Linked DNA regions of Homo sapiens. The protein of the gene in region 5 purifies or fractionates together with the protein of the main gene of each other region. This does not show direct contact. Each region holds a gene or a part of one and is shown on either strand. Other genes may lie near its edges.

Region 1 (4,471 bases), on a different chromosome or scaffold from region 5:
CATAGCCAAAGTTTTTATTGGTAATCATCTTTTTGTTCACAGAAGTGGGGCAGTGTTCAAGAGCCGTATGCCAGGCAGAGGTTAGCTTTGTTCTCCTGGGGTTTTTCGTTTATTTTTTTAAGTCCTAAAATGTCTCTGTGGTTTGTTTTTCATTTGGAAAATGGAAATGGCATCTCATGCAGTGCAAATGCACAGAACACCTCCTGAGTGTCAGTTACTGTGGTGTGAGCCGAGGATTCTTAAGAAGTCTCTCAACAACTATCGCAGATAGGTACATTCCCATTTTAATGAGGCTCAGATAAGTTAGCACTACCAAGCCTGCGTGATTCCGAACTGGGCACTCAAACATCATGCTGGTGGGATACTGGGATATTTGTAAGATGCATGAGAAGCCTTAGGTGCACTCATATCTTGCTAGGTCTTCTGTTCTTCCTCTTTTCCCTTCATTATAGTTGCTTTATCTCCCCAGAATCTTGTTTCTTCGGCCATCTTAGCACATCCTTCACCCTTACCATATAGTGTTGGCAGCAGAAGGATGACCCACAGAGTAAGAGCCGTGAGAGCAGAGACTGTGTCTGGCTTGATCCTGGGAGGTCACCGTATTGATGCTGAACTTAGTGAGGGGTACCACTGGGTTGCCTAAGGAGGGGTGAACCGGCTCAGGTCAGAAACAGAGCAGGTCAGAACTCCCCTGCTGATCAGTAGTGGGGTCACGCCTGTGAACATAGGCAACTTAGTGCAGCCCTGTCTCTGATTTAATTTAAAAAAAAATTGTTTTGGCCAGATGTGGTGGCTCACACTTGTAATTCCAACACTTTGGGAAGCCAAGGTGGGCCGATTACTGGAGCTCAAGAGTTCGAGGCCAGCCTGGACAACATGGTGAGCACATTTAAAATAGGATTTTGTGCAGAAAGAGATCATTAGAAATTCATATACTGTGCAACAAGAGTACATGTTCTAGAGGGAGACCTGCCCTAATTAATACCCAGGATAGAAAAATAAGTACAGGGTCTCTACTAAAAATACAAAAAAAATTAGCTGACCATGGTGGTGTGTGCCTGTGGTCCCAACTACTTGGGAGGCTGTGGTGGGAGGATAACTTGAGCCTGGGGAGGGTGGGGAGTGATGGCGAAGGTTGCAGTGAGCCAAGATCACATCACTGCACTCCAGCCTGGGCAACAGAGTGAGATCCTGTCTCAAAAAAAAATTTGATGATGATGATGAAAATAATAATGTTGAAAATGAAAGTGGTATAAGCATCATTCATGCGACTGTGATTCCAGGAGGGAGATGCCAGCCCAACTGACCACTGTTTCACATGGCCTCTCTGCTTCCCCAAGCCATGCTGCTTTCTGAGTGTTCCAGCGTGCTGACTCTCAGGGCACTTTTGAGCCACTCATTCATTGAACTAAATTCAGTGACCACTCTTGGATTTGGGGTTGCGATGAAGACGTCTAGCACTTGGAGCATCTCCAGGGTGTCCCACTCCCTGGGATGTCACTGGGCATGGACACCTGGAGTCTCCCTAAATAGTCTATTTACCCCTCACTTGTAACCCAACATCAGCTTCTTTTTGTTCAGTCAGATTCTCCAGCTGAGAGATTTGGGCATTCTCTCTGGGTTCTACGGGTGCTGGTGGCTGAATGAAACGCCCTGATCAAGATCCGGGCTAGACGCTGGCATTGCAGAGCCTGAGCTGTACAGCAGAGTTCCCATATGGTTGGAAGACGAGCCTCAGAGAATTGGGAATGTGTCAGCCAGTCCTACCCAGTGCCAAGTAGCACAGATTTAAAGATTTCTTGATACTCCTAGACAGCTGAGCCGAGATTTTATCATCAGCCACAAACGCAGCCAGCCCATTGCCGCCTTGGCAGCATTTGTGGAATTAATTGGAGCACTGAGCTGACAGGACACCAGTGTGGGAGTATCTAAGAAGTTTCTCTTCAGTGCTTGTGTTGTGTTCTGTGTTGAATTGTGTACCCAAGGTTTCTGGGAGTGAATATTGCCCTCTACTGGGACACTAACATTTTTAATTCAAGCAATCTAGCCAAAAATGTTTCTGTTGACGGCAGTGTTTCTAACATGCTTGGTGGAAATGGAAATATTTGTATTAATGAGGCTGAATATTGAGAGTTATGGGGGGTTTCCCAGTTTCAATGTACTCTTGCCTCCCACCTGCTGTAGGAATGTGAGGGAGTCAAACCTTGTGTGTGTTGTTGGTATTCAAATAATTCACCAGAAACTTTTCCCTGTACTCATTTCTCCCCTGGGCAAGTCTCCCTCTAGAACATGTACTCTTGTTGCATGCTATATACGTTTCTGATGATCTCTTTCTTAGGAAATTCTATTTTAAATGTGCTAATGGAACCTTATTTTAAAGCAAAGTCTCCTTTTCTAAAATCACTCCTAATATAGTTATGATTTGTAATTGTTAGTACTCCAAACCCAAATTTCTCTCTATTGGTAAACCTTATAGTAATCTTATAGTCCATGGGACCTCTAAAATTATTTTAGTGTAATAGAACTAAATGGTGAATAAATTGCCAAAAATTTTACTTTACATTCTACAGGAATTAGCAAGTAAGGCACTTTGTATTTGTTAGGGCAATGGTTTTCCACAGTGACCCACAGTTATAAATCACCTTATAGAGCAATACAACTTACCTGTATGAATTTGTAAATAAGTATTTAGACATACACATAGTAATGAAACAAAACTCTTAACTTGATTTACTTTGTGCAGTACACTTTGATATTTTCTATTCTTTTTGCTTTCTTATTTCCTCCTTCCCTCCCTCTTTATTTATTTATTTATTTATTTTTGAGACACAGTCTCACTCTGTCGCCTAAGCTATGGTACAGTGGTGCAGTCACAGCTCACTGCAACCTCCACCTCCAAGACTCAAGTGATCCTCCCACCTAAGCCTCCCTAGTGGCTAATCCTTCCCTCTTCTTTTTTTTTTTTGAGACGCTCTGTTGCCCAGGCTGGAGTGCAGTGGCACTCACTGCCACCTCCGCCTCCCGGGTTCAAGTGATTCTCCTGCCTTAGCCTCCTGAGTAGCTGGGACTACAGGCGTGTGCTACCACTCCCAGCTAATTTTTTGTATTTTTAGTAGAGATGGAGTTTCACTGCGTTAGCCAGGATGGTCTCAATCTCCTGACCTCGTGATCCACTCACCTCAGCCTCCCAAAGTGCTGGGATTATAGGCATGAGCCACCGTGCCCGGCTCCTCCCTCTTCACGATCCACCAAAATCAGTTATCATCTACTATCCCACAATTTGAAACACTGCATTAGGGGTAAAGGTTTTCAGCTATCTCCACCCCTTCCTTTCTGGTGTGTGTATATGTTTTCTTTTCTTTCTTTTTTAAAGAAATAATGCCAGATAACAGAACAGAAGAAACATAAAGGGCTTAAATTCCCAGCCTTTAGGACAAACAGACCTCTAAGAAGTGCCTTCCATGAGTGACTTACCCTGAGGCACTGTGGGAAAGTCCTTCTCAGTGTACTTGAGAGTGTCATTACAACTCCCCTAATAAAAGTCCCCTACAGAACTACCTCTGCCATGGCTTGGGAATAGCATTACGTAATAATAAATCATATTGTAATAATAAATTTTTATGTATTTATTTTTGAGACAGAGTCTCACTCTGTTGCCCAGGCCAGAGTGCAGTGGCACGATCTTGGCTCACTGCAACCTCCGCCTCCCAGGTTCAAGCAGTTCTCCTGCCTCAGCCTCCCGAGTAGCTGGGATTACAAGCACGCGCCACCACACCCAACTAATTTTGTATTTTTAGTAGAGATGGGGTTTCACCGTGTTGGCCAGGCTAGTTTCGAACTCCTGACCTCAAGTGATCCACCCGCCTCGGCCTCCCAAAGTGCTGGGATTACAGGCATGAGCCACCGCACCCGGCCATAAATATTTATTAAGCACTTAGTGTGATTCAGATAGACTCAGTGCTGTGTGTGCACTGTCTCCTTAAATCCTCACAACCACCCTGTGGGACAGGTAGCATGATTTACCCTGAGTAAAGGAAGGTGAGGCTTACAAGGTCACAAACAGAATGCTTGCTGATTGAGCTGAGTTCTTAGCCACACCTTCATGCCAGTGCTCTTATCAGAACAGCTCCTTTTCTTTTTTTTCTCCTTTTCTTTTTCTTTCTGAGACAGGGTCTTGCTCTGTTGCCCAGGCTGGAGTGCAGTGGTGTGATCTCAGCTTACGAAGCCTCAATCTCCCAGGCTGAAGCAATCCTCCTACCTCAGCCTCCCGAGTAGCTGAGACTACAGGCACACACCACCACTCCCAGCTTATTTTTGTAGAGGTGGGGTTTCACCATGTTGCCCAGGCTGGTCTTGAACTCCTGGGCTTGAGATCCCCTGCCTCAGCCTCCCAAAATACTGGGATTACAGGTGTGAGCCACTGCACCTGGCCTCACTTTTCTTAAGCATGTATTTGAGAATGGTGGAACAC
Region 2 (5,222 bases), on a different chromosome or scaffold from region 5:
GTGGTAGCGATAGGCAGCCTCTGACTTGAAGCTCTGGCTGCACAAGCGGCAGTGGAAGAGGGCGTCTTCCAGACTTTGGTGCACAGCCATGTGCTTCTCTAGAAGATGCCAGTCCACAAAGCTGTTCGCACAGACAGAACAGGAGAAGACTGAGATGCCGAGATGGGACAGCGTGTGCCACATGAGGCTGCAGAGGTTAAGGTGACGCTGGTCGCAGACACTGCAGGCCTGGCCCTTCAAGTTTAGATGGTCAAGGATGTGGCCCCGGACCACATGGAAATCTTTGGCCAATACTTTCCCACAGGCAGCGCATTTCAGCTCTGGGGAGGCTGCCCCTGAAAAGAGACCCAGCTTCCCTGGCAGGGGATCGTTGGGGTGGACAATGATGTTGTTCTCAAATATTCCATCCCGTCGGTGAAGGGTCAGCTGCCACTGGGTAAAGAACTTAGTTTCACACATGTCGCAGGAGAAAAGGAAAATACCAATGTGGGACAGGACATGAGTTACCCGGGAGTTTCGGTCCTGGAAGTGGGTCTCGCAGACCTTGCAGTTGCCCGTCAGCAGGTCCACATGGTCCCGAGCATGCTGCCGGATCAGTTGAATGTTGGGCTCTAGAACTTTCTTGCACACCTGGCAGGGCATGGCCTTATTCTCCCGATTGTCATTCTCTCCAAAAGCCAACTCATCCTCACTGTCATCACTCAGCTCAATCACCTCCTCAGTTGTGCCTATATCCTCAGCAGGGTCTTCAAACTGCAAGTCATCATCCCCCAGGTCCTCGAGCTGGAGCTCATCCATCTGCCCAAAGCCAGGATCTTTGGAGTGCTCACTATTGCTCAGACAGGAGTTGGTCCCAGTGGTAATGTCTACTGCATTGTCAGGGGTGAGGAAGCTGTTTTTACTGAAGTCTCCATTGCTTTGAACTTTGTATGGCTGGCAGGAGCTCGTGCTGGTCTGGATGCCCGTGCTGACAGTGCCTAGGAGTGGCTGGGTCATCATGCTAGGAATGGACGTGAAGGGAGCAGGGGTGTCATGGTCTTCTGTCTTTGGCGGTGGTGGGGGCGGTTGCGGCAGATGCAGGCTATGGTTAGCGTCACTGGCAACATTCTTCTCTTCCTCTTTATAGCTCCCTCCAGCATCACTGGGCAACACATAGTTTCTATCAGCACCAAGGTAGTCCCCACCACCTCGGAGTTCTCCAAGGGGATGGGCAGGTTCTGCCGAAGGACAACTCAGGGTACCAGAGTGGCTCTCACTGGTGCTGGTCAGGGGCTTGGCCCTGGCAGTGCTCTCCAGATCAGGAAAGGTAGAGTGACAGGCCTGGAGGAGGTCCTCCATACCCAGACGCTCAGCTACCTCGTAGATGACCCCAACATTGATCAGGTCTGTGAAGAGTTCTGAAGTGTAGACAAAGCTCAGAACCTTCTCAAAGTTGGCAGGGGTGATGAAGTCCACCACATAGGTCCTGGCAGCATCAAGCCCAGTATTCAGGAAGAGGTTCTGGAAGTAGCCAGCTGCACAGGCCAGCACAGCCTTGTGGGCCGGGAAGGAGCGGCTCCCCACCACAATGGTGACGTCGCACATGGTCTCTGAGAGCCGGCACTTGTTGAGTTCCTTCAGCAGGTTGTTGGGGTGGTTGGTGCTTTGCAGTTTGATCCTCATGCCCATCTTAGCAGCTCCTATGAAATTACCTCCTTATCAGCACAGTTAATCTGTGGATAGCAAGAGAAAAAGATGGATGGCCAAACACATCCGTGCAAAAGAGGGGCTATGCAGGAGAAAATACCATCACTCTGAATGCTTCCAAGCCCCAGGTAGGGATCAGGAGTAAACTGGCATGGAGAGTTCCTCCATTATGACAAGGCAATGACATCTCCCCCTGTATATACTCAAAGAGTTATGACAAAAACCAAAACGACTGATGACAATCTGATAGCTTGGTTTTAAGCTGGTGCCTAGAGACGAACCAGAGGCATTCCCTTGGACACAATCTTATACTTCATTACCAGAGCCACTGGATCAAATTTTTCTCCTATTAATTTCCTCCCAAATACAAGCTTTCCTAATTCATTGAGCATATTCTTTTCCCTCATGATGCCAAATACCATGCACATGCTTGAACACAACTATCAAAGCTCCACTAGCTACTGAGGAACATATAAGGTGGTTCCGTTTTTTAGCTTTGTCATTGCTGTGTCTTCAACCTCTCAATAATCTCCAAATAAATCTCACGTTCTTGAATCCCCATCTCTCTCTGCCTATACTACATACCCGCTCTCTGGCCTTTCGATAACCCAGAGCCCCTCCAGATATTGCTTTATCACAGTCCCTGTATTCTGTGAAGTTAAAACACTCAGAATGCACAGTAAGAAAAGTAGAACACAACTGTGGTAGTATTTAATATTACTTTAATATGTTGTATTCTTTTTCGCCACCCTTTTCGGGGTTTATATTTTGTTGTCCCTGCACTAACAGATTTACTTGATGCCGCAAGAAAGACTTCTAATTATACAGGTAAGACTCCTAGAGGCTTGTTCACTACCACTTTCTGCCCTTTCTGACTCCTGCACGACTAAGGAAGAAGAGCTACTTGCATCCCTGTTCAGTCTCACAACTCTGCCCAACACAGCCCCTTTCTCCATCTCTCCAGATTCTAACAACTCCCAACTTTTTCTGGGGCCCAGGAAGCGTCTAAGTATTGTGGGGTACCGGCCAAGCATCTCCCGGGCCCTGGTGGCCACCCCTGAACGATGGGCGGGTCGGAGCACTGGGCAGCCAGAGGAGAGGGTGGGAGAGGGGGAAGCTGGGAACTTCCAAGGACACCCCAACAATCCCCGGGCGCCGCGGTCTCCCCTCCGGAGTCGCATCTGGGAGGGAAGGGCGCTGCATCGGCTGGGGCGCTCCCTCTGGAGGCAACGAGCGCCTCAGTCCCTCCACAAACAGCGCGGGGCTCACCCGGGTGAGCCTGTTGGGGGCATGGGGCTGAATAAGGGGCCAAGCGAGGGGCGGCGGGGCCGGCCGGGGTCGGCGCGCGGGCGGGGAGGATGGGTCCGGCCGAAGGGAGCGGGCAAGAGGGACCCCAGCAAGAGCGAGATAAATGCCGGGCCGAAGGTCGGGCTTCGGCCAGGGGCAGCCCTCGGCCTGGCCGCGCTTACCCGGCTCTGCGGCGCCCCGAGCACCATCGCCGCCGCCGCTTCACACAAAGGCCCCGGCCCGCCGTGCCCGGCCCGACGAGGAGGCGGCGCCGCCGGCCGCGGCCAGACTCTCCATCCGCCGCGCGGCTCGCCGCGACGGCCCGGGCCGCCCCCGCCGCCCGGCCCGCAGCGCCCCCCGCCGTCCCGGAGGAGGCAGCGCCCCCCGCCGCCCGGCCGCAGCGCCCCCCGCCGCCCGGGAGGAGGCAGCGCCCCCCCACGGCGGGGCCGGGTCCAGGACCTGCGCGAGGGGTGCAGGGGCTTCCAAGTCCCCAGGCTGGCTTTTTCTAAGCGCCCATCCACTGTGCGCGGGACTTGGTGCCTGAAGAGTGAAAAACCCTATCCAAACTCTCTTCACCTCCCCTGTTCTACGCTCACAGTTCCAAAAGCTTCTCCTCAGAACATCTACTATGGGCATTTTACAAAATGTTGTAAGATTGTTTGATTACTATATATCTCCTCCACTAGGCTGTGGGCTTCCTGAAGGCAGGGATCTGTGGCTTTGCACACGGCCGCAGGTCCACACTGACCCTTACCACACTTCCTGGCACAATAAGTGCTTAATACATTAAGCCTGCTTGAATGAATGAAGGAGCACTTGAGGGCTAGACCGCTACTACTGGACCCTTCTGATAATCCACTGCTGTCCCTCCTTCCATCTAGGTGGCCAAATGAAGAAAGTCACCGGATCTCACTGTACTTTGGCACCCCAGGCCTGCTTCCTGAAGCCTGCCCTCCCCAACTCTGTGTAGAACTCGATCACTCTTCCTCCCCACCCTTCTCCCAAATCATCTTTTCAAATGCTTCTGCCCAAGAATTGTCATCAAACGAAAACCACCTACACTGCCTGCCCCACCCACCACCACCAAAGACATTAGAAGTCTTCGTCATGTCGCCCTCCCTCCCTCAGTACAGAGGAAGCTCTTAGGCTCCAAGACCCTTCAGTTTCATCCTCTCTCCCATCCCATCCCAGTCACTGCCTGAAAATAGCTTGCAGCCAAGGACAAACTCCCAGGACAGGCGCATGGTAGGATTCAGTAATTCCTTGATGGATAAGTGGAAAGGAAGGGACACACTGAATGTTGCCAACAGATCTAAGCCAGTTTGGCCATTCAGCAATTGTCCATTCTCTTGATGAATTTGGGAGATTGTGTGTCCTCCTTTCCACAACCTCATTAACTGGTGGCAGACTATACTGAAAGCAAGCACTATACCAAATGCTGCCAAACATGTAACATTTGTTAGCCAGGAGATACAAAAACAGCCATAGAACTGTTCTTATAGTTTGGGGATGAGGCATCTCACTTTACCATCTAGTGAAAGGGTCACTTAGAGGTTGACACAATGTTTCAGTGGCAGGCCCAGCTCTCACAGTTGTGCAAGGTGACTGAGTCTCCCTAAAGTGGAATATCACACAGCCAGCAGGTCCAGACCTCCAGCATGACTCTGGAGACAGAGGGCTGCTGGGCTTGCAAGGGCCTGGGCCTATACAGTCTTTCTAACCAACTGCCCCAGCCATCTCTGGAGGGTTGACCCCAATAAACTTCACATGAAAACAAATCATCCAAAAGACGCAGGTGAAAGTATATACCACTTATACTGAAGTCTTTTTAAAGTAAATCACCATATAGTCACAATAACAAACATATACAAAGTTAAATGGAGAAGAAAGGGCCAGGAATTTAGTCAAGGTCTTGTGGACCAGATCTCTTTAGGCATCAACTGTTTTACAACAGGAAAGGGAGGGTCAGGATCCCTTCACACATTCTTCAAGTACAAACACAGGAATCTAACTTAACATTTGTCTTCATTTTTTTCTGGAGTCCCCAGTACTGCAATTTTTGTCAGTCCCACTAGAGAGCAATCTTTCTGCACTTAATGTTCCTACTTGCAAAGCAATTGTCTCATCTCAGCCTATAAGCCTAACTCCCACCAAGTCTGAGCAGAACCAACTCTTGTAGCTTTCATGACCCAGAGAAAGCCCCTAGACTCTGCAAAAGTGTCCCCAGTTTTAAGCCCTATAGATAGATA
Region 3 (3,500 bases), about 46 Mb from region 5:
CGAGGAGCACACAGACTGAACATATACATTCCAGCGTGGTGCTTGGAGGGCAGCTCATCGGCCACAGAGGGGCTCAGTGCCACAGAGGGACACTGAGCCCAGTCTGGGGGCAGAGGAGGTGTCCATGAAGGCCTTCCCAGGAGGCAGCATAAGAACTGAGTCCTGAGGATGAGTGGGCATTACCTGGGCACAAGAGGGAGCGCGAAGTGTAAGCAGATGTGAGAGGTACGCAAGAACATGTGCAGGGAGGGGCAGAGGGGGGCGGCCCACTTGACAACTCTAGCCAGGTCAGCTCAGTTGACCTCACCTCTCAGAGCCTCGCTTTCCTCCTCTATAAAATTGGAGGAAAGCGAGACTTACCTCGTAGGGTTGCTGTGAGGTTTACATGAGATTTTGACACGGCAGAGAACCACTTAGCACAGTGCTTGGCACATAGGAGACCTCAGTAAGGGTGAGCCATGATTAGTATCACATACAGTTTCATTGTGCTAGAGTGAAATGCACAAGGAAGGGAGTGGCAGGAGGAGCAGAGGTGGGCAGGGACCAGATCATGGACAGTTTTGCACAACAGGCCAAGCCTGGACTTGACTCTGCATGTCTGCAGTCGTTTTCCCCGCTCTACTGATACCCAGGAGCCTGAGGACATTCCCACGTGCCACATACTTCAGGGACATATTCAAGATCTAGATGACTGACACCCTCCCTTAAAAGCAAATCTTTGTTTATGAGGACTATGGTAATTCCTATTTAACTCTTCAGGCTAAATCATCATGGTCACTCACTAGGGTATGTGATAAGATCATTTATGGTTATGAGTATTTTTCAGGTGCCTGCTGCCTGTAACTCTGCCCCTCTCCTTCACCCCAAGCAAATGAGACTGGTACAATTTGGAAAACATTGAATTGGCTATGATTTGTTTTAAAAAGGTAATAAATCATTCAAAAGCATAATAGAAAATGCTCAGTAAATGTTAGCTACTATTGTTAGTATTTATATTAGTAGAAATAGTAGTACTAATAGTAGCAGTAGTAGTAGGAGTAGTAACAACTTACTTTCAGCCCACGTCAGAGGCTACACTGTGGTTACAGAACCACTGCGGTTGGTGGGTTTTAAGCAGGGGAGTGGCAAGATCATATTTGCATTTCAGATCACTCTGGCATCAGGATTGGAGGATGGATTTGCTGGAGGCAAGACTGTAGGCAGGGAGACCAGTTAGAAGAAGGCCCTTGCAATTGTCCAGTTAAAAGATAACAAAGGCCTGAGCAAGGCAGTGGGTAGAGATACAGAAGAAGAGCGGCAAGATTCGCTAATACTTAGAATGTAAAATTAGCAGAAATTTGGTGACTGACAGAAGGGGGAATGAAGGCTGGGAAGAGGGATGAGTCTAGGATCCCCAAATCAATGGCCTGGCTTCTAGGACTATCTCTGAGATAGGATGTAAGACAAGAGGAGGAGGGGTTGGAGGGACTGACCATGACATTTGGATTTGGATATGATGCGTTTGAGATTCCTGTGGTCCAGAGGCAACCAGCTCCACGAGTCAGAAGCTGAGAACTCAGGCCAAAGTCAAGGTTACAGCCTAGTATTAGGGAGTCCCCAGGTAGTGGTTATAATCAAGGAAGTGTAGGAATCTCCCCAGGGAGTGTGAGTAGTTGAGAGCAGCTACTAGCACAACCCGGGGAGGAAGGGAAAACAAGAAACCCTCAAGAGAGAAAGGAGAATCAGCAAAGTCTCAAAATCAGGTATCAGGATCAAAAGCTGCTGAGGGGTCCAGTAATACAGGGACTGAAATCAGGAGATCATCAGTAACTTTCACAAGGGCTTCTTAGAGTCCATCAAAGTCCCATGGATCGAGGCACAAGCTAATGCCTACAGCAGCTATGCTTCACAGGTATCTTGATCCTTGCAGCCCTTTCAGACACCTGTTCAGTCCATTTTTGAGAGTCACTAGTGTAAGAATACTGCATGCATATCCCTCACAACGCTAAGAAAACAAAGTGCAACCTCCAAGAAAAGTGGCTCCAGGCTCCCAGATCAATGCTGGGCAGAAAGAGGGCTTTGTGGGGACTGAACAAACTGGGAAGTGCATGCCCTGTCTGAAGCAGGTAACTGCTTATCTTCGAACGGGGCCAGTAGGGAATGCAGGCCCCGGATGGCCAGATCTGACTTTCAAGAAAAGACAAAATCAAAATTTTAACATGAAACCTCCTATTTTTGAAAACCTGCATGGCACAAGGGCAGACAGAACTCATCTCTGTAAAATTTCCAAATTCTACTGCAGATGCTATCCCTAAATATTTCTCAAATTATTCTCTATGTCTCTCATCACTACCCAAATTCACCTAACATTGGTCTAGGTAACAGTCATACAAAAATTATTTTTAAAAAATCACAAACTTATTATATTCTTGTCGGAAAAAAGCCCCAATCCTTGTATTATACATGTAATCCTCTATATTTATTTTATTTTATATTTTATTTTATTTTATTTTATTTTATTTTATTGAGACGGAATCTTGCTCTATCACCAGGCTGGAGGGCAGTGGCACGATCTTGGCTCACTGCAACCTCTGCCTCCCGGGTTCAAGTGAGTCTCCTGCCTCAGCCTCCTAAGTAGCTGGGACTACAGGTGCACGCCACCACACCCAGCTAATTTTTCTATTTTTAGTAGAGACAGAATTTCACCATGTTAGCCAGGATGGTCTCAATCTCTTGACCTCCTGATCTGCCCGCCTCGGCCTCCCAAAGTGCTGGGATTACAGGTGTGAGCCACCGTGCCCGGCCGTAATCCCCTATATTTCTAAGAAAAACTTTCTAACCAAGACTGGAAACCAGCAGCTATAAAATAAAACTAGGTCAAGTGTGGTGGCTCATGCCTGTAATCCCAACACTTTGGGAAGCTGAGGTGGTAGGACTGCTTGAGCCCAGGAGTTTGAGACCAGCCTGGGCAATAGTGAAAAAAAAAAAAAAAAAAAGCCAGGCATGGTGGTGCACACCTGTAGTCCCAGCTACTCAGGAGGCTGAGGCAGAAGGATCACTTGAGCCCAGGAGGTCAAGGCTGCAGTGAGCTGTGATTACGCCACTGCACTCCAGCTTGGTTAACAGAGCTTGGGTAACCCTGTCTCTAAAAAAGAAAACAAACATTTCTGACTACTAAAAAATATTTTCTCTAGCAAAAGGTAATATAAACACATTCAACAGATAAATACCAGATAAATACTCATAATGCAGATGACAGGCAAAGGGCTAATTTTTATAATATATAAATTTTCTTACAAATTGACAAGATGAACAATTCAACAGAAAAATCGAATATTCAATTAAAAGAACAGATCCAGATGGCCAAAAGAGTATGAAAAACTGCTCCAAATGTAGAGAAATGCAAATTAAAGTATAAATGAGATATTATTTTATTCCCATTAGACTGACAAAAATGAACATAGTTCTAGCATATATTACTATAATGGGTATGTGGAAAAGTGAACTCATAAATTGCTGGT
Region 4 (3,500 bases), on a different chromosome or scaffold from region 5:
CCCAGAACTTCTGGCCTCTTGGTTCTTGTCTAATCACATTTTATATCACCCAGTGGTCAGGGAGGTAGGTGGCCTGTCTCTTCCAGTAGACCCCAAGCCGGGGTTGGGCCCTGCAGGCAGGACCTGGAGCTGAGTCATCTCACTGCAAGGGCCTGCACAGTGCCCAGCCCACAGCGGATCCCTAACAGGAGAGGCATGGAAGGGGTTGAGGACTACTAGGGAGCCTCTGTGAGGCACACTCCTGTCTCAATGAGATATGTACCTTCAAGGCGGCCCCCCAGGCTTGTCGGAGGGCAACAGGTGCCAGGGCCCTTGAGGGCATAAGGCAAGACCACATATGGAGGGTAGGATGGAGGAGAAATATCTACTAGGACCCAATTTCGAGCAGTGCTTCTCAACTTTAGGGTGCACTCAAATCCCCTGGGGATCTTAAGATACAGACTCTGATTCACTGGGTTTGGCATGAGACCTGAGATTCTGAATTTCTAGTGAGCTCCCACGTGATGCAGATGCTATGGGTCCTTGGACCACATTTGAGACACAAAGGTTTGGAACACTCTCTTAGGTCAGAATTGACATCCCAAGCACCTGGGCCGTACAGAGGAATTCCTATGATGCTGTGAGCAGGAGCCCCAGTACCTGTTTCTCCTCCAAGTGCTCATGGATGCCTCCCCTACCATCTCATCTCTCACTTTCAAGAGGGAGGAGGCAGAAGAGCTGATGCTCATGAGATTGACCCTGAGGACTGAGGGCCCAGGAGAAGTCCACCCGACCCTAATTTCCCAGTGAAACCTTAGACAAGGGTTGACCTCACAATCCTAAGACCTGTCCTCTGACCCCACAGGTAAGAGGCGCCTCTTGAATATCCCTTAAGATAGAACTGCTCTGTCTGGTTCTTGTGTCCAGCGCATTTAACACAAGGCGCACATGCTGATATTCACCTATGTCAACTGCAAGTGATTTTGAGAGCCTCCTGGATGCCAGGCGTCGGGCAGGACATAATAATGCAGGTGGTATCTCTGGCCTCAAGGAATAACTTCACCAAATAAAACAGTAGGGGATGCATCTTCTGGATGCATTTTCAGGGGCATTTCACAGAGGTGCTGAGAATGCCCTCCTTTAGAGGACAGCACTTGACTCTCATTTGTAGAGAACAGACAGACCCAAGAGCCCTTGGTCAGACAGGGAGATGAAGACCCTGAGAGGATCAGGGACTTTGTCCGAGGTCCCACAGCCACATGGTGATCAGGACCAGATGTGACACCAGGGCCCACTACACAGACTATCTGCTACTTGCACAGGCAAGAGGCCTCTCCCGGGCCCAGCCAACCACCTGGTTCAGAGGGTCCCTCTAGGGTGAAGGACACAGATCCTGACAACACCTGGGGCTTGGCCCCTTCCCATGCCAACAGAGACCCCCAAAGCATTAGGTAGTGGGCATCCCCAAGAAGGAAGAACAGCTGCAGGAAGGCCTGTTCACATGCCAGGACCTCCCTTAAAGAGGAGCAAGAATCAAATATGTTTTGTTCAAACACAAGGCTTATAAAAGATGTGCCTGAGTGAGGAGGCGAGAAGGTGAGACTCGGCTTCTGAATATGCCTTCTGAGAGACAACCAGGGAGTGTCTCGCTGGCCAGCAGCAGTGTAACTAAGCCTGATGAACCGGGTCAGCCGCCCATAGCTCTCACAAGAGGAATCTCAGGACTTACGTGACTTACTCACCAGCTTGGATGGCCAGGAAATTGTAGAGTTCATGCAGCAGCTCCAGCAAGGCTGCCTTCTGCTTGGCCTGACAGAACTGGAAAGGCACGGGACAAGTGGTCAGCAAGGAGGGGTGGGTGGGAGGGGTCCGTCTGTCCATCTTTACTTCTCCAGCCACACTGTCAAATACTAAACAGCAAGGAATATCTCATACTTTTACAAAATAGAAAAAAATTCTGCCAAGTGCTGGGCCTAGGGAGAGAGTTGATAAATATTGGGTTAACTGCCTGAGAAAGACCCTGGAGAAGCAGAGGCAAAGCTGAAAGCAGACACTGTAACCAAGGGGCTGCATCCCAGAGGCTCCTGGCTCCTGCCTTTCCCTTGGAATGACGGCCATTAAGAGGGCTGAGCAGAGGCGACGTGGTCGGGGGATGATGCAGTCGCTCAGCTTCCTCAGAGGAAGAGCAACTGCTGTCGGAGTTTGCAGAGATGGGAGAGCTGGAAGAGCTAGGAGAGCTTGCAGACAGGGCAGAATGTCAGCAGCTGCCATCTCGTCTCCCGTTAGGTGGAATCTCAGAGCCCTCATCTGAGTAAGGATTGTGGTAGGATTCAGTGCGAACTCACACAAACCACTCAGCAGAGGCTGCTACCACCTAAAGGAAACAGGAGGACAGACGGTACCAGACAACGAGACGGCCTGATTAAGACAACACACCCACTCCCAGCCTGTCCCCACGTTTTCAGCAGCACAAAGGCAGAAAGAAAAACACAAAGTGTCACCGTCTTCAACGACCGAAAAGGGAAAGAACATGAATCTGAAATTCAAATGCCCGTCTGTGATCTCGGTAAGCCTGGAGCCATGCAAAGAATAAGACTTTCAGCAAGAGCCTCACCAAAGCCAAGAAACACGTCCCCACCTGCTTGTTCCTGTGTCCACCCTCCAGAAAGGCCAAGGGTGCCCCATGAAATCTTAGCTCCACAAAGCCTGCATTGAGATGGCCCAGCCCCTGCTTTCTGATGCTCTGATGAAGGTCTGAATGGTTACAAATAGGGATATCTGCGTCTGAAGCCCTCGCTGGCAGGTGCTGAATGCCGTCTGCCCACGGAGCGCATCTGTAGCTAGGACCTGGAGGGTACCTGTCTGGGCTCACTCAAGTGGAGCCTGAGTGTGTCCAGATCAGAGAAGGCCAGGGAACAAATGTGCCATTCACTTGTGGGTCTGATTCATTTAGAGATGTGAAGGACCAAGAAATAGAAACCATGGAACTTTTTTCTAATTAAAAGACAAAACTAACAGCACTGAGAAGTCTTACAGAAAGTTATTTTTTCCTGTTTTTGTTTTAAGTCTTCAAATTCCAGTTTCCCCTCTGGCTGCCTGTGTTTCTGGGCCACTTCCTCTCATCATCAACTACAGTTTTTATGATAGAAGGCAGATTAAACTTACTATGAATCTGTTTTTACAAAACAATTGGGAAGCAAAGATATTTGGTGGATGAATCCAATAAATGGATGTAATAAAACACCCCCAACTATGACACACCCGAAGCCAAAGAGAAATAAAAGCCGTTATCTGCACCAGGATGCCCCCTCATTTACATGAGTAAGACAGTCAATGCAGGGCTGGCCAGAGGACCATGCGTCATTTTCTTTCCCAGCCCCTGGGCTACTAGAGATGTTAACTAAGGACTTGGGAGGCCAGGCATTGCACACTTAATTAGACTACTAAGTCATGCCCTCTGGCAGCACAAGACTCCTCCTGGTACAATTTAAGACCTGAAAATTTACTGCCCCATATCTTCT
Region 5 (5,145 bases):
GGTGAGCTATTAATATTTTTTAAAGAAAAATAAAATATTTGCAGTAGTAAAAGAGATTTGAGTAGGACATAGGTAAGAACTTCTTAAGCAAGGTGATCACTACTCCTGGGAAAGACATCTTCAGAAAGTATACAACACCTCTGGAATTCTCAGAAAACAAGATACATTAGCTGGGCGCGGTAGCTCACGCCTGTAATAATCCCAGCACTTTGGAAGGCCAAGGTGGGCGGATCACCTGCGGTCAGGAGTTTGAGACCAGACTGGCCAATATGGCAAAACCCCATCTCTACTAAAAGTACAAAAATTAGCCGAGCATGGTGGTGGGCGCCTGTAATCCCAACTACTCAGGAGGCTGAGGCAGGAGAATTATTTGAACCTGGGAGGTGGAGGTTGCAGTGAGCCAAGATCGCGCCATTGCACTCCAGCCTGGGCAACAGGAGCGAAACTTCATCTCAAAACAACAACAACAACAACAACAAAAAGGAAACAGGATACATTTTCCTGTTATTTTTAAAATAGATTTATCGAGGCATAACTGGCATACAACACGGTGCATACACTGGAAGTATACAATCTGATAAATTTTGGCATATACATATACCTGATGAAGTGCAATTAATCAATCTGTTCTTTCATGGATCATGCTTTCAGTGTCTTATTTAAGAAATCTTTTCCAATCTCAAGATTAGAAGATTTTATGTCTTCCTGTAAGAATTTTACGGTTTGATCATTTCACATTTGGCTGTATGTACTGCTTTGAGTTAATTTGTATATGATATAAGTGATGATTCAAAGTTCATTTATTTTTCATATGAATATGAATTTTCCCAGAATCATATGTTAAAAAGACTGTCATTTTTAATGATTTTTTTTTTTACCTTTGCAAAAATCAGTTGTCCAAATATGAGTGAGTCTATTTCTGGATTCTTTATTCTGTCCATCAACCTATTTTTGTAACTTGTTGCCAAAATCACGTTGTAGTAATATAGTTGTTTATGTATAGTATCCAAAATAATACACAAAACATTATAAATAATAATTCAACAGTTTATAACTATAAGATTAATATACAGAAATGCATTCCTTTATTTTAGTACCACTCCAAGAGAGAAAAAAATTACATAAAAAAAGTAATTTCCAATAGCAACAAAACTACAAAGTACATAAGAACATCGAATACAATATATTTAAGAGTTTTAAAGGGAAACTTATAAAACTTTATTGGGAGATTTAAAGGACCTACTTAAGTGGGTGTATGTCTGATATTTTAAATGGGAAGATTTGATAAAATGAAGACAGCAGTGTTGTCAAATTAATCTATAAACTCCTATCCAAAATCTCAAAGGGTTTTTCATAGAATTTATCAGAATGATCCTAAAACCTAAATGAAAAAAATAAAGACAAAAACCTGCAAAACAAGTTGAATATGTTTATCAGGATGTACTATCCCTACTACTAGGTATCAATACTTACTACAAATGTATAATTATTAAATCAGTATGGCAGTGGCGTAGAAAAAAATGAACTAATAAATAGAGTGTGGAAACAGGACCACATGTAAATTAAAGCTTGGTATATAATCAAAGTGGCATTAAAAATCACAAGGAAAGAATGGCCAACTATAAAAAGTGTTCAGACAAATGACAATACACAGGGAATGATATATTCAGCCTTTCTCTTATATCATACACAAAATATATATCTGGTTGGATTAATTATCTAAATAGAATAGTAATGATGTTGAATAAAACACAGAATTTCTCAATACATTGAAGTAGAAGGAGGTTCCTTAAATAAGGCACAAAAAGGACAAGCCAGAAAAAAAAAATTTGTCAAATGTGATTGCATGCATATTCTCAATTTCTTTGTAGGAAACACACACATCCGTGCACACACACACACTAAACAAAGTGATTATACAAGGCAAAAACTGGGCAGATACCTGCAATACACACACACACACACACACACACACACACACACACACACATATATATATGGCTATACCTGCTATATATATATATATAGAGAGAGAGAGAGAGAGAGAGAGCTAATAGAGGTTTTGCTTTTGGAATACATGGAGAACCATGTATCAATAAGAAAACAACAGTCTATTTGAAAAGTGTGCAAAAGATGTGAATGAGCAATTTGCTCAAATATCCAATAAACATAAAAAAGATGTTTGACATTATTAGCAATTAATGACTTCCAGAGCAGCAACATATAAAGTGGAAGAAATAAGCCAAAGAACAGGAAAAGATGTTTATGAGCTGAAAATAACTGATTGTGAATTTTAGGGAAGCTTGAATACCCCCATCAGTAGAGTCAATGTTAATAAATTCTAAACTATCACTGTTAATGGCCTTATAATGTTTTTTCCTATATGTTGGTAAGCGCTGGAGAAACTCTACTTATACATGTAGAGTTCATGAGTGAAAATTAAAACTATTATCAGGACCATTTTCAAAATAAGGAATACATTAAAAATATTTGCAATGATAAAGCCATCCAAATGCCCCCATCCTACTGATGAAAGCAAGGAAGGACACTACCTTTGTTGAATATCTACTGTGACAATCAGCTTGGATGATTCCTACTTTTCTACTTGTCCATAAGAAGCTAATCTTCCTATAACCCTCTTATATAATAACAATCACATTTTAATCACATTTTATGTGATTGACTCAGTTTTTTCTCTGAAGTTATGTTGCCTTATAAATGAAAAACTTGCATTTTACTTCATAATATCTGTTAACTTAAAAAATGCTTGTATTTGCTATTGGCATAAAAGTCAGCCTTACAAATAGGCTGATAGACAAACCCCAAAGGAAGCCGAAGCTTAAGGAACACCAGCTCAGAGACACCAGAGGACATGGCTAAAGTGAATAAAAGAGAAATGAACCCATCCTTTCAGAGCTGATGTCCATGTTTGCAGGTTCAGGTTCTCAGAGGTGTGCACAGCATGGCTGGCCTTTCCTCAGTTGTCTTTTTCAGCAGAGAAACGGTTAAGTCTCTCGTCTCTAACCCAGCTCCTCTATGGTGCTTACCTCCTGATCCCTGGGGCGATCAGCAAACCGGGTCTGCCACCTTCTTTTCAGAGAGCTTAACTAGCAGAGGACTCAGGAGAGCATGCCCAAATAACCTAGGTGACTTTCAAAGCTACAAAGACTCTGACACTTCTGGACGGCTTCACATGTACCCCTAATAAACACTTCCCTTCACCCCCAGGCCCAGTGTGGGTAGGAGTGACAACTGGAGCTCTAATTGGCTGAGCTGGTTTGGGTTCTCACTAGCAGCCACAGAAGAAAATGTCTATAGAAACTTGTATCTGAGTCATGCCACATAGGAACTACACTGATTGGAAACAGAAAGTGGCCTAGAAACTGTAAAAAATGACCGCAGATGACTTCTTGATACACTTTGTGACTAAGGGGCCTGGTGATGACATTTTTCTGGTATAAACAAGCACACTGATCTCAGAGGGTATCTAAAAGTGTTGCCAGTAGGGCAGTGCAGGTTCTTGTCTTCAAAGCATAAGAGAATCTGAAAATGAGACCCAAGCGAAAGTATAGACATTTTATTGTGGAGCAAAACCAACGACACCCTCAAGGGAGGAGTGCAGGCACTCAAAGATTTGAGTCACAGGCAATGTGGTTCACGTACTATATGAATAAGCACAATGAAGGTATGGAGTACTCTGTAATCAAGGGGAGGGGTTTTCTGGGAAATGGGCGGGCAATTCCCGGAATCGGGGTGCCACCCTTTTCTTGACTAAAGATGGTTAATCCGGAACTGTCATGGCGTCAGGTGCATGATGGGAGTGGGAATTTCCCCATGGAAGTTTTATGATATTAAGGGCATAATGAAGCTAAGGGTCAGCAGTCAGCCAAGTTTTCGACCATCTTGGCTTTAACCAGTTGCGGCCAGTTTCTTCTGTGTTACATTCTCATCTGTGCCTAAGTAGGAAGTTTGCAATCTGTCTTCATTGTCACAGGCTGTTGTAACAGTTCCTATCTACTAGTGGGGCAATCCCTCTGCTAACCTTTTTGACCGCATTTTTATTGCTTGTAGCCACCTGCAAGTAATCATGCCTCATTCCCTCACTGACTGCTTGCCTCAAAAGCATATATACAGTCTTTCTTCCTAACCCAGGCTCCTAACCCTAAATTCAGAGCTTGAGGGCTTGATTCTAGTCAGCAATTTACTTGAGGTTTTCCTTTCTTATTCATTGAATTAACAATTATGCACTGAACATCTAATATGATGTATTAGATTCTGAGAATATAAAAGTTAGTAAGACAAAGTTCCAGATGTTGAGCGGCTCTGCCAAGTCATGAAAACAGACATGTGATTTAATAATCACAATAGGACATGATGATAAGTGTTATAATTAAAGCATGCTCAAGATGCTCAAGGAGCAGAGGAAGAGCACCTAACCATGCCCAGGTAATCAGCCCAGAGCTGCAGGACCTCCTTCACTTTCTACTGCAAGGCTTGTTTCTACACTTTTGCCAGCTTTCAGCTCAAATAGCACCTTATCTGTGGGGCTTCTCTGACCAGCATGTTCTCTACCTCTTCCCCACATTATCTTTTCCCACACGTGTTACTGACCATCATCTGACATACGGTATATGTCATTTGTTTGTTTATTCTCTGCCTCATGCTCCTAAAATGTAAGGCACATGAGGGAAGAGATTTCTGCCCACTGGCTCACTGCATCCACTTCACCTGACACAGTGCCAGGCACAGAGAAGGTGTTCAGAAAATATTCGTTGAATGAGTGAATGCATGAATGAGTGGATCACACAAGGCGAAAGAACACCAAAGAGAACAATATGTAAGAATTAAAAAGATGTGAAGTGTATGAATTTGGTAACCTACTGAGTAAACGAGAGAAAGCTCCCTGTTGAGGAAGAACCCAACAAGCACCAACCCCAGAGAGGCGTACTGATTTGAGGCTTCAGGTCCTGTAAAAGGTGAGTTAAGTGATTAAGCTGGGAAGTGGTCTCAATGAGGAGCAGGTACACTGCTGCACCTGGGGCAGAGAGACAAGTACTCATCGTCCAGCTTTGTTTTACCAAGAAATTTAATCAGAGAGATACCCAACTTGGTGACACAAGACACAGAAGGGAAAGGAGGCAACTG
Region 6 (4,471 bases), on a different chromosome or scaffold from region 5:
TACTACATTGCACCAAATGTATTTGACCTCAAGAAGCCAGAATGGCTCTTCCACAGATCTGGTGATACGAATGGGTTTCCAATCTCTGATCCTTGTATGATCTGGATTGTCCACCATTAGAGCAATTTACAAGATCATAACACAGCTTAAAATATAGACAGCTTTAAAATAATAGTGTGAAAACTTTCAAACCATAACTGTCGTGTTTCTCTTATCAGTACCTGGCTCCAAAAGGGATTCTTCAATGTCCTATTTAAAAAAGAAAAAGCAAATCCACAAGTCACTTTAAACACGGGGCACATACATTTCACCAGTAAATATGGCTTTCAATCATCTGTGAATAAATGCCTGTTTCCACAAAACTTTCTTGTCTCCAAAAAATGTATTCCATCCTACAATAACCTGATGAAAACCAGCTCATTTTAACAGTTTCCCTGGTAACAGCAGGTCCCTAGTGATAACAGTCTGTCCCATTCTCCCGAGTTTGGGCCCTGCCCTGCCATGCCACCCACCCCATGACCAAGCTGACCTAGTGGCTGCTGCAGCTGGCAAACACCCCCTTTGTCAGAGAAGAGGTCACAGTGGATTTAAGAAAAAAATACTTCTCCCAACATAAACTGATTTGTAACTGAAACCTGTCATAACAAAATGATCTCTCTACTCTGCTGAAAACCTTTTCCGACATCTGTCTCACTTAGGACAATAGGTCCAATCCTTCTGGTGGCCCAGACTCAGCGAGGCGGGCCCAGCTGCTCTGCAACACCTCTGGCTTCTATCCAACCCTGTGTGCTCCCCTCTCTCTTTTGCATCAGAGACACCACCCAAACTTTCTGCTCCAAATTCTTCTTTCCCTCTTCAACCTATCCGTCAGACCTCTGGGAAGAGTTCCAGGCACTTATGAAGTCCAACCACCAGAACTGCTCCCTCATCACACTTCTTTCTCCCTTCTGGTTACATATTTGGTTTGATCCCACTGCCCCTGCTAGATGGCCAGCCCTGAGACTGTTTCTCTTCTGCTAACCTCTTAACCCCAGCATCCAGCACAGTATCCAGTCATTTCCATACACATACACACTGCTCTTTCATTATGGAAAATCAACCACTCGATTAACATTTCCAGCGATGCAGAACCAGATGGTAACTTACCGGAGTTACTTTGAAGTTCAACGATGAAGTTTCCAAAGTGTTCTTAAATCCTTCCCCATCCACCTGAAAAACAAAATGGAAGATGACTTCGTGGAGGCTGGAGCTATGAAAACCAAGGCTGACACCTCGCTTAGGCAACTTGTGTGTCTATTTCCCTCACGGCACCTTTTGCCATCTGCAAGTCTACTGTTGGGTCATTCAGTTCAGCACCTGCCTCTCCGCCAGAACACACACTCCACGACTCTGCTCCACCAGCGTCTCTGGCAGTGGCCTGCAGGTGGGTATGCCCTGTCTGTACTGGGTGAATGAACGAATGAATTTCCCAGGCAGTTTCTAAGTACTGGTGATTACCACATACCCCTCCAATCACAGGATTTCCAAAGCAGAACTCAAAATGATAAAATGCACCCCTCCAATTTCACCTGGTAGCAATACTCTTAAGGTAACACTAACCGGGCACTTTCTCCTAGCCTACTTTATTCATTCATTCATTCACTCATTCATTTGAGACGGAGTGTCACTCCTTTTGCCCAGGCTGGAGTGCAATGGCGCCATCTCGGCTCATTGCAACCTCCACCTCCTGGGTTCAAGCAATTCTCCTGCCTCAGCCTCCCGAGGAGCTAGGATTACAGGCATGCACCACCACGCCCGGCTAATTTTTTGTATGTTTTAGTAGAGACGGGGTTTCACCATGTCCAGGCTGGTCTTGAACTCCTGACCTCAGGTGATCCGCCCACCTCAGCCTCCCGGAGTGTTGGGATTACAGGTGTGAGCCACCGCGCCTGGCCCGCCTAGCCTACTTTATTAAAAACAAACATCTAACTTGGTCAATTTCTCTCTTTACTACATGCCAAACAAAAGAAAAACTGTTAACACCAAGTTTTACTAAATCTGAAGCTCTTTTTAAGTGAACTACAAAAACAGCACTCCCAAATATTTTCTTTTTTCCTTTTCTCGATTTGAACTCATGACCTGGGATGCCTCCATTAACTGAGAAGTACACACTCTGAAAACAATAAGCACACAGCAGTACCAGACTGAGAAAGGCGGCTAACCAGTTGCTCAGTGCTGCCCTAGGTCAAAGGATGGTAAATTTGGAGGCAATGACTTTTGACCGTAAGGTTTAAGGTTCAGTCCTATGGAGGCATTTCCACCCCCAAGCTGAAAGCTGCAATGCCTTAAGGAAACAAAACAACCTACTGGGCACGTGACATCAGTCAGAGTACAATGAAGATCAGCTCGAAGACACTGACAGCTTGTGATATTTGAACAGCCTCACCAGAGAGCTCTACGCCAAAACACTAGAAGTGAAAAGCTGGGAAAGCCCTAACAGAGCAAAGTTCCTCCTTTACATACAAGGATGCTCACAGTCAGTCCTTTTGGGGAGCAGGGTTGATACTTGTCTTCACTGTACTTTACATCTTTTAATGTAACTGCTTAACCTTGCTTAAAACAACATTAACAGGCTAGGCGTGGTGACTCACCACTATAATCCCAGCACTTTGGGAGGCCGAGGCAGGCAGATCACTTGAGGTCAGGAGTTCGAGACCAGCTCAGCCAACATGATGAAACCCTATCTCTACCAAAAATATAAAAAATTAGTCAAGTGGCTGGGCGCAGTGGCTCAAGCCTGTAATCCCAGCACTTTGGGAGGCCAAGGCGGGCAGATCACGACGTCAGGAGATGGAGACCATCATGGCCAACATGGTGAAACCCCATCTCTACTAAAAATATAAAAAAATCAGCTGGGCGTGGTGGCGCATGCCTCTGGTCCCAGCTCCTCAGGAGGCTGAGGCAGGAGAATTGCTTGAATCAGGGAGGCGGAGGTTGCAGTGAGCCATAATCTTGCCACTGCACTCCAGCCTGGGTGACTGAGAGAGACTCTGTCTCAAAAACAAACAAACAAACAAAACACAACATTAGGAGGAATATCTACATGATGAGATTAGAAACCATTTTTGAGCTGGGCACGGTGGACCACACCTATAATCCCAGCACTCTGGGAGGCTGAGGCGGGAGGATTGCTTGAGCTCAGGGGTTCAAGATCAACCTGGGTAACCTAGTGAGATCCCGCCTCTAAAAAAAAAAAAATTTTTTTTTAATTAGCTGGGCGTGGTGGTTCACTGTGTAGTCTCAGTTATGCAGGGGGATTGCTTGAACCTGGGAGGCTGAGGCTGCAGTGAATTATGATGACCCCACTGCACTCCAGCCTGCACAACAGAGCAAGACCCTGTCTCTAAATAAATAAACCATCTTTGCTTCTTAAAACTGTATTTTAAAAGGAAAAAACTAAATGGGCACTGTGGCCTGTGCCAATAAGCCCAGGTAGTCAGGAGGATCGCTGGAGCCCAAGAGTTCAAGACCGGCCTGGGTAACAGTTGAGACCTCATCTCAGAAAAGAAAAATCTTTTATGTCAGAGCTTTCTATTTTATGACTCACCACATGCTTCGAATTATAAAAACACTCCCCAGTGCTACAGAAAAGCTATCTATGAGTAAATCCCTGAGCTACACAGCGTTTAAATGGACATGGTTTAACACCAGGGTGTAGAAGCAGAACTGTGTGTTCATGGCGGTTTAGCTGTGTTCTCCCTCACACGAGCAGCACGCGAGCACCAGGTGCCTCGGGGCTATGGGCACATCCTGCCGTGTCTCCAAGTTACCTACAGCATGCTCTGGGGGCTGAGCCGGGAGCTGTCTCAGCTGTGCAGCCACGTATTCTTTACTATCACAAAAGGAATCGAGAAGGCCGTCCGTGCCATCCTCCCCAAAATCTGGAGCACTGCTATTCGCCACTTCAGTTTCGTCTAGCACACTCATGTCCATCATGCCCATATTCTGCAGGTTCTCCAGACTTGCTTCCATGTCCTCCTGTAAAGAGGAAGAAGAATCGTTAACGACCACCTGGACCAGGACAGGGAGCTGCTGCTTGTCATCTCTACCCTGACATCACTTACCTGCCCGTCTCTGGAATCGTCTTCCAGGCCATTATCTTCTGTGCCTTCCTCCTCCATCTTCAGTCCTAATTACAGAATAATTGTTCAATCAGATAACACTCAAGTTCTACCTCATAATTAGTTTATGCAGAATAGATTTCAATCTTAGAACAGAACACATTACAAGATAAACTATAAGTCTCCCCTCTCCTGTCACACGTAATTTTGTCTCAATTTGTTTTCTTTTTTTTTTTTTTTTTTTTTTTTTTGAGATGGAGTCTCCCTGTGTCACCCAGGCTGGAGTGCAGCGGCACAATCTCGGCTCACTGCAATCTCCACCTCCTGGGTTCAAGCGATTCTCCTGCCTCAGCCTCCTCAGCAGCTGGGAC
Region 7 (4,471 bases), on a different chromosome or scaffold from region 5:
CTCCAAAACATTTAAAATTCCTAAAGCAAAGGAAAAACTGACTTTAAAATAACCTATTTTCTGGGCGGGAGCGGTGGCTCACACCTGTAATCCCAGCACTTTGGGAGGCCAAGGCGGGCAGATCACATGAGGTTGGGAGTTTGAGACCAGCCTGGCCAACATAGTGAAACTCTGTTTCTACTAAAAATACAAAAATTAGCCAGGTGTGGTGGCATGCGCCTGTAATCCCAGCTACTCAGGAGGCTGAGGTGGGAGAATCGCTTGAATCCAAGATGTGGAGGTTGCAGTGAGCTGAGATTCCACCCCTGCACTCCAGCCTGGGAGATAGTGCAAGACTCTGTCTCAAAAAGAAAACAAAAAACTATTTTCTGTATTGAAGAGGAAAATATATGAGCCTCCTGATAAATAAAACTACGTTAGAATATTATATCTGAATGTATCTGCCAAATCTGAGCCTAAACTCTAGTTAGCAGATAAGCACTTGTTAAAAAATATTTATAGTAATATATTTTTAATCAACCAGGATTTCATCTTGTATAAAAAATACCAAGAACTTCCACACACTATGTCATTTTCTTCTTTTTGCTTTTTTAAATTCATGTCAGGCTCAGTGGCTCATACCTCATACCTGTAATCTCAACACTTTGGGAGGCTGAGGTAGGAGGACTGCTCCATCCCAGGAGTTTAGGAATTTGAGACCAGCATGAGCAACATAGAGAGACCCTGTCTCCAAAAAAATAAAAAATAAAAATTCATTGTTTAAAAAGGAAATCTGGTGGGGCGCGGTGGCTCATGCCTGTAATCCCAGCACTCTGGGAGTCCAAGGTGGGCAGATCACCTGAGGTCAGGAGTTCAAGACCAGCCTGGCCAACATGGTGAAACCCCATCTCTACTAAAAAAAATACAAAAATTAGCTGGGTGTGGTGGTAGGCGCCTGTAATCCCAGCTACTCGGGAGGCTAAGAGAATCGCTTGAACCTGGGAGGCGGAGGTTGCAGTGAGCCAAGACTGCGCCATTGCACTCCAGCCTCGGTGACAAGAGTAAAACACTTCGTCTCAAAAAAAAAAAAAAAAAAAAAAAAAAAAAAAAAAAAACAGGAAACCTATTCACATGGTTCACCTTTGTGTTTCAGAACACCCACCCCATCTTCCTGGTTATCTCCCCTATTTCTGAAGACATATCTACCTCTTTTATGAGAAAATTAAGATTTTGATTTTGTATATTCAGAGAAATGTTTTGTTTTTTACACTGAAGTGTCAGAATAAAGGGAGCTCCCTTAAAACAGTGAAAATGATTATTTTTATAAATATGATCTAAAATCAACTATTACCACGTGTATACTGCACATACACAGACACATACAAACACATAAAGCAAGATTTATACCCTGTAGATTTCTGGCTTGGTATTCTGTTTTGAATCCTACGAGTAATGGAAAAAAGAGAAGCTAAATTATACACAGACCAACACTCCTATTAACTCATACCACTAATGAAACAAAACTCTAACTAAGCAGAGAAAATGGGCCCACACATTGGAGCTCTGAAATGATTTTGGTCTTTGATCTGTGTGCCCATCTCTCCTATTTAATGTAAACTTCAAATCAAGAGCCATGAAAAATGGTTATAATTAGTAAAGGCCCCAGTGTGACAGCTTTTAGTGCAACCAGGCATTAACAAGGAGTTTTTTTCACTTTTACATTAAGCTGAGCCAACTTTTATTTTAGAATTTCTGTAATTCAAAATTCTTTCCCACCAAAGAACTTAATTCTTTCCCACCTAGCACCACCTTCTGCATGATGGGTATGCTGAAATCGTTAGTTCATGTCTATTTCCTTCATTGAATTTGTAGCACTATTTAGGCCTTAGCTTCCAAATTACATGTGGCTATTCTCCAAAATCTTCAGAAACTCTCATTTTTGTATCAGAAATCAACACACAGTGGTGAGTGAGCACCAACTATGCAATCGTTCTAGGTGCAGGAGATGGGAAAATATTCTTGAAGTGAGAGAAACATGTTAAGAGATAAATTACAACAGACAAGACTTGACAGATGGGGGTAAAAGTTACTCACAACAGAAGAGCTAATTCTCCATAGAAGAGGTAGTATTTAAGCTGGGTCTTGAAAAAAAGAGTACAAAATTTTTATTGCTGAAGGAAGGGGATGGGGATGCAACAGAATGAACAATCCAGGCAACAGGAGGCAGTAAGAATCAATTCAGTGTGGCAGTGGGGTAGAAGAGAGTGACAAGAGCTGAGACTAGAAATTCAGCTTGGAAGCAGACGAAGTTCCTTGTATGCCAAGTTAAGGAGTTTGGATTTCTTCCTGTAGACAACAGAGAGCCAAGAGATGTTTTTAAGCAGGCAAACACCACGCACGGCTTTAGTTCTGATGATTCTGGCAGCAGAGTGGAGGATGAACTGCAGTAAGGAGAAACTGGTGGCAGGAAATTAACTTGGGAGGCGTTTGTGACTTGATGAGGGCCTTAGGTCAGAAACGATAGAACAGCCAATGCCAGGGCCAGACTGGAGTGTGGTTTTGCAGAGGGCCTGGTGACTGATCGAACATTGGGGCAGGACAGACATACGTCAGGACGGCAGTAAGACTCCTGGCCTAGAAGGCTGGGTGGATGGTGATCACCTTCCAGAAGGAAGGGAGAGGACTTTCATTTTTACAAGTACCTGCAGGGTAAGGTACTTGCAGGGTGATCAGGGTGACAAAAGGTTCAAGCTTGGGAGAAGTTGTAAATGGAGATATAGAGTTGGGAGTTGGCAGTTTATAGGTTAGACGAGAAGACAGAAAAGCACCAGAACGCAGAGTGCGTTCTGCAGGAACAGGACTCGTTACCACGTATGGGACTGCAAAGGTGGCTGCAGAGCAATGGCCCTGAGCACCATCAGTGCGACTGACACCAATGGGACACTGACTAACCGCTGGTTTAGATGTAAAAAGAGCTATCTTCAAGTATTGCACATGTCTATAAAGTGGGAGCCCAGGCCACTCTAGGGGTGACTCTGCCTACCACTGGCAGCCCTTCCTTTTCTGGAATTCGATCTCTGTCTCCCTGTTTTCTTCTCCCCTCTATGGTTTCCTTACCTCCTGTCTGTGTGATAGGCTGGGGGGTGGGGGGGAAGGCCAAGGGTCAGATCAGTTAACACTTGCTGGCTAAAAGATCACTCCTGACACTATATTAGACATTTCTGGTCTGAGGCCTGGGGTCCCTTAACATAAAAATAATCACCGCCTCCTACCCTGCATCCCCTTACTCCCTCCCTATCCCTCCCAACCACAGCAGCTGGCAGCCATCCACCCTCTCAAGAGGAGATGTATGGACAGAGCACCCGGCTCAGAAACACTGCCCTATAAAAACGGCAGACGGTTATGTAAGAATTTTGCAAAAACTTGAGAAAATAAAACAAGGGAGACTACGAATGCAAAAACATTAACTGTTAAGCAAGTAAGGGCTAGTTCAAACACTTAAAAAAAAAAAAAGGTATACTCCACATAACTTAGAACATGAAGGAGGCTGCAGATGACAGCACCAGAGCAAGTTTCCCAAATAACTGAAGAGGTGACTGGGAAAGCTGAGCCATCGACCACAACAGCTTCACAAAGCCAATGAATCTAGTTTGTTTTAGAAGTAGATGACTTCTAGAATTTTCATTTACTACGGGGTTTTCAAATATATTTAATGCCACTTAACATTTTCCTCAACCCCAAATTTTCTGTGAAACTTCGAACTTGCCAACCATGGTACCTCAGAGGCAAATAAGAGCTTACTTGCTTTATGGAATTTCAGATTTCTAAATATATCGCATGCAATACAGGCAGCGCACCCAGTGGACTTGTAGATGAGACCCAGGCCACGACTACTGTACCTTTCAAGCAGGCTTTCTCAACCTCAGCTCTGCTGACGTATGGGGGTCGTTCTGTGCACTCCAAGATGTGGAACAGCATCTTTGGGGTCTATGCACTAAAGGCCAGTAGCAGCTCCCCGCTGCCGCCCCCCCCCCCACCAGAAACACTTAAAAATGTCTCCAGACAGTGCCAAAAGTCCCCTGGGGGCAAACCCACCAGGTTGAGAACCACTTCTTCAAAGAGTAAGCCCCAAGCTTGTCATCAGCTTTTTCCTTAAAACTCATCCCTCACCCTGATCAACATGGTGAAACCCTGTTACTACTAAAAATACAAAAATTAGCTGGGCGTGGTGGTGTGTGCCTGTAGTCCCACCTGCTCAGGAGACTGAGGCAGGAGAATCGCTTGAACCCTGGAGGTGGAGGTTGCAGACAGGCAAGATTGTGCCACTGCACTCCATCCTGGGCGACAGCAAGACTCTGCCTCACCTAAGTGAACCACATTAAGAAGAATTTGCTAGTCCTGTTAGTCTCCCAGCACTAAAAACAAAAACAAAGTGCTGCATTTCCCCAATCTGAACATAAACTCCTAGGCAAAATTTGACTAAGGTAATGGA

The links.
Region 1: the proteins of AIM2 (region 5) and BEND3 purify together in Homo sapiens (affinity purification with mass spectrometry; one large-scale study listed by BioGRID and IntAct). This does not show direct contact.
Region 2: the proteins of AIM2 (region 5) and ZBTB39 purify together in Homo sapiens (affinity purification with mass spectrometry; one large-scale study listed by BioGRID and IntAct). This does not show direct contact.
Region 3: the proteins of AIM2 (region 5) and MOV10 purify together in Homo sapiens (affinity purification with mass spectrometry; one large-scale study listed by BioGRID and IntAct). This does not show direct contact.
Region 4: the proteins of AIM2 (region 5) and LEMD2 purify together in Homo sapiens (affinity purification with mass spectrometry; one large-scale study listed by BioGRID and IntAct). This does not show direct contact.
Region 6: the proteins of AIM2 (region 5) and SAFB2 purify together in Homo sapiens (affinity purification with mass spectrometry; one large-scale study listed by BioGRID and IntAct). This does not show direct contact.
Region 7: the proteins of AIM2 (region 5) and RREB1 purify together in Homo sapiens (affinity purification with mass spectrometry; one large-scale study listed by BioGRID and IntAct). This does not show direct contact.

What each region holds. Positions count from the first base shown.
Region 1 is NC_000006.12:107,073,578-107,078,048, reverse strand, and holds part of BEND3 (BEN domain-containing protein 3), read left to right. Parts: intron 1-4,471. UniProt on the Homo sapiens protein: Transcriptional repressor which associates with the NoRC (nucleolar remodeling complex) complex and plays a key role in repressing rDNA transcription.
Region 2 is NC_000012.12:57,003,250-57,008,471, forward strand, and holds the start of ZBTB39 (zinc finger and BTB domain-containing protein 39), read right to left. Parts: upstream 3,298-5,222; 5' UTR 3,156-3,297; intron 1,713-3,155; 5' UTR 1,669-1,712; coding exon 1-1,668. UniProt on the Homo sapiens protein: May be involved in transcriptional regulation.
Region 3 is NC_000001.11:112,684,659-112,688,158, reverse strand, and holds part of MOV10 (helicase MOV-10), read right to left. Parts: intron 1,194-3,500; exon of another isoform or gene 1,053-1,193; intron 1-1,052.
Region 4 is NC_000006.12:33,782,631-33,786,130, forward strand, and holds part of LEMD2 (LEM domain-containing protein 2), read right to left. Parts: intron 1,890-3,500; coding exon of another isoform or gene 1,863-1,889; exon of another isoform or gene 1,831-1,862; intron 1,798-1,830; coding exon 1,722-1,797; intron 1-1,721. UniProt on the Homo sapiens protein: Nuclear lamina-associated inner nuclear membrane protein that is involved in nuclear structure organization, maintenance of nuclear envelope (NE) integrity and NE reformation after mitosis.
Region 5 is NC_000001.11:159,073,586-159,078,730, forward strand, and holds the start of AIM2 (interferon-inducible protein AIM2), read right to left. Parts: upstream 3,182-5,145; 5' UTR 3,048-3,181; intron 3,042-3,047; exon of another isoform or gene 602-3,041; intron 1-601. UniProt on the Homo sapiens protein: Sensor component of the AIM2 inflammasome, which mediates inflammasome activation in response to the presence of double-stranded DNA (dsDNA) in the cytosol, leading to subsequent pyroptosis.
Region 6 is NC_000019.10:5,612,319-5,616,789, forward strand, and holds part of SAFB2 (scaffold attachment factor B2), read right to left. Parts: intron 4,169-4,471; coding exon 4,104-4,168; intron 4,018-4,103; coding exon 3,814-4,017; intron 1,210-3,813; coding exon 1,147-1,209; intron 250-1,146; coding exon 222-249; intron 1-221. UniProt on the Homo sapiens protein: Binds to scaffold/matrix attachment region (S/MAR) DNA. Can function as an estrogen receptor corepressor and can also inhibit cell proliferation.
Region 7 is NC_000006.12:7,114,012-7,118,482, reverse strand, and holds part of RREB1 (ras-responsive element-binding protein 1), read right to left. Parts: intron 1-4,471.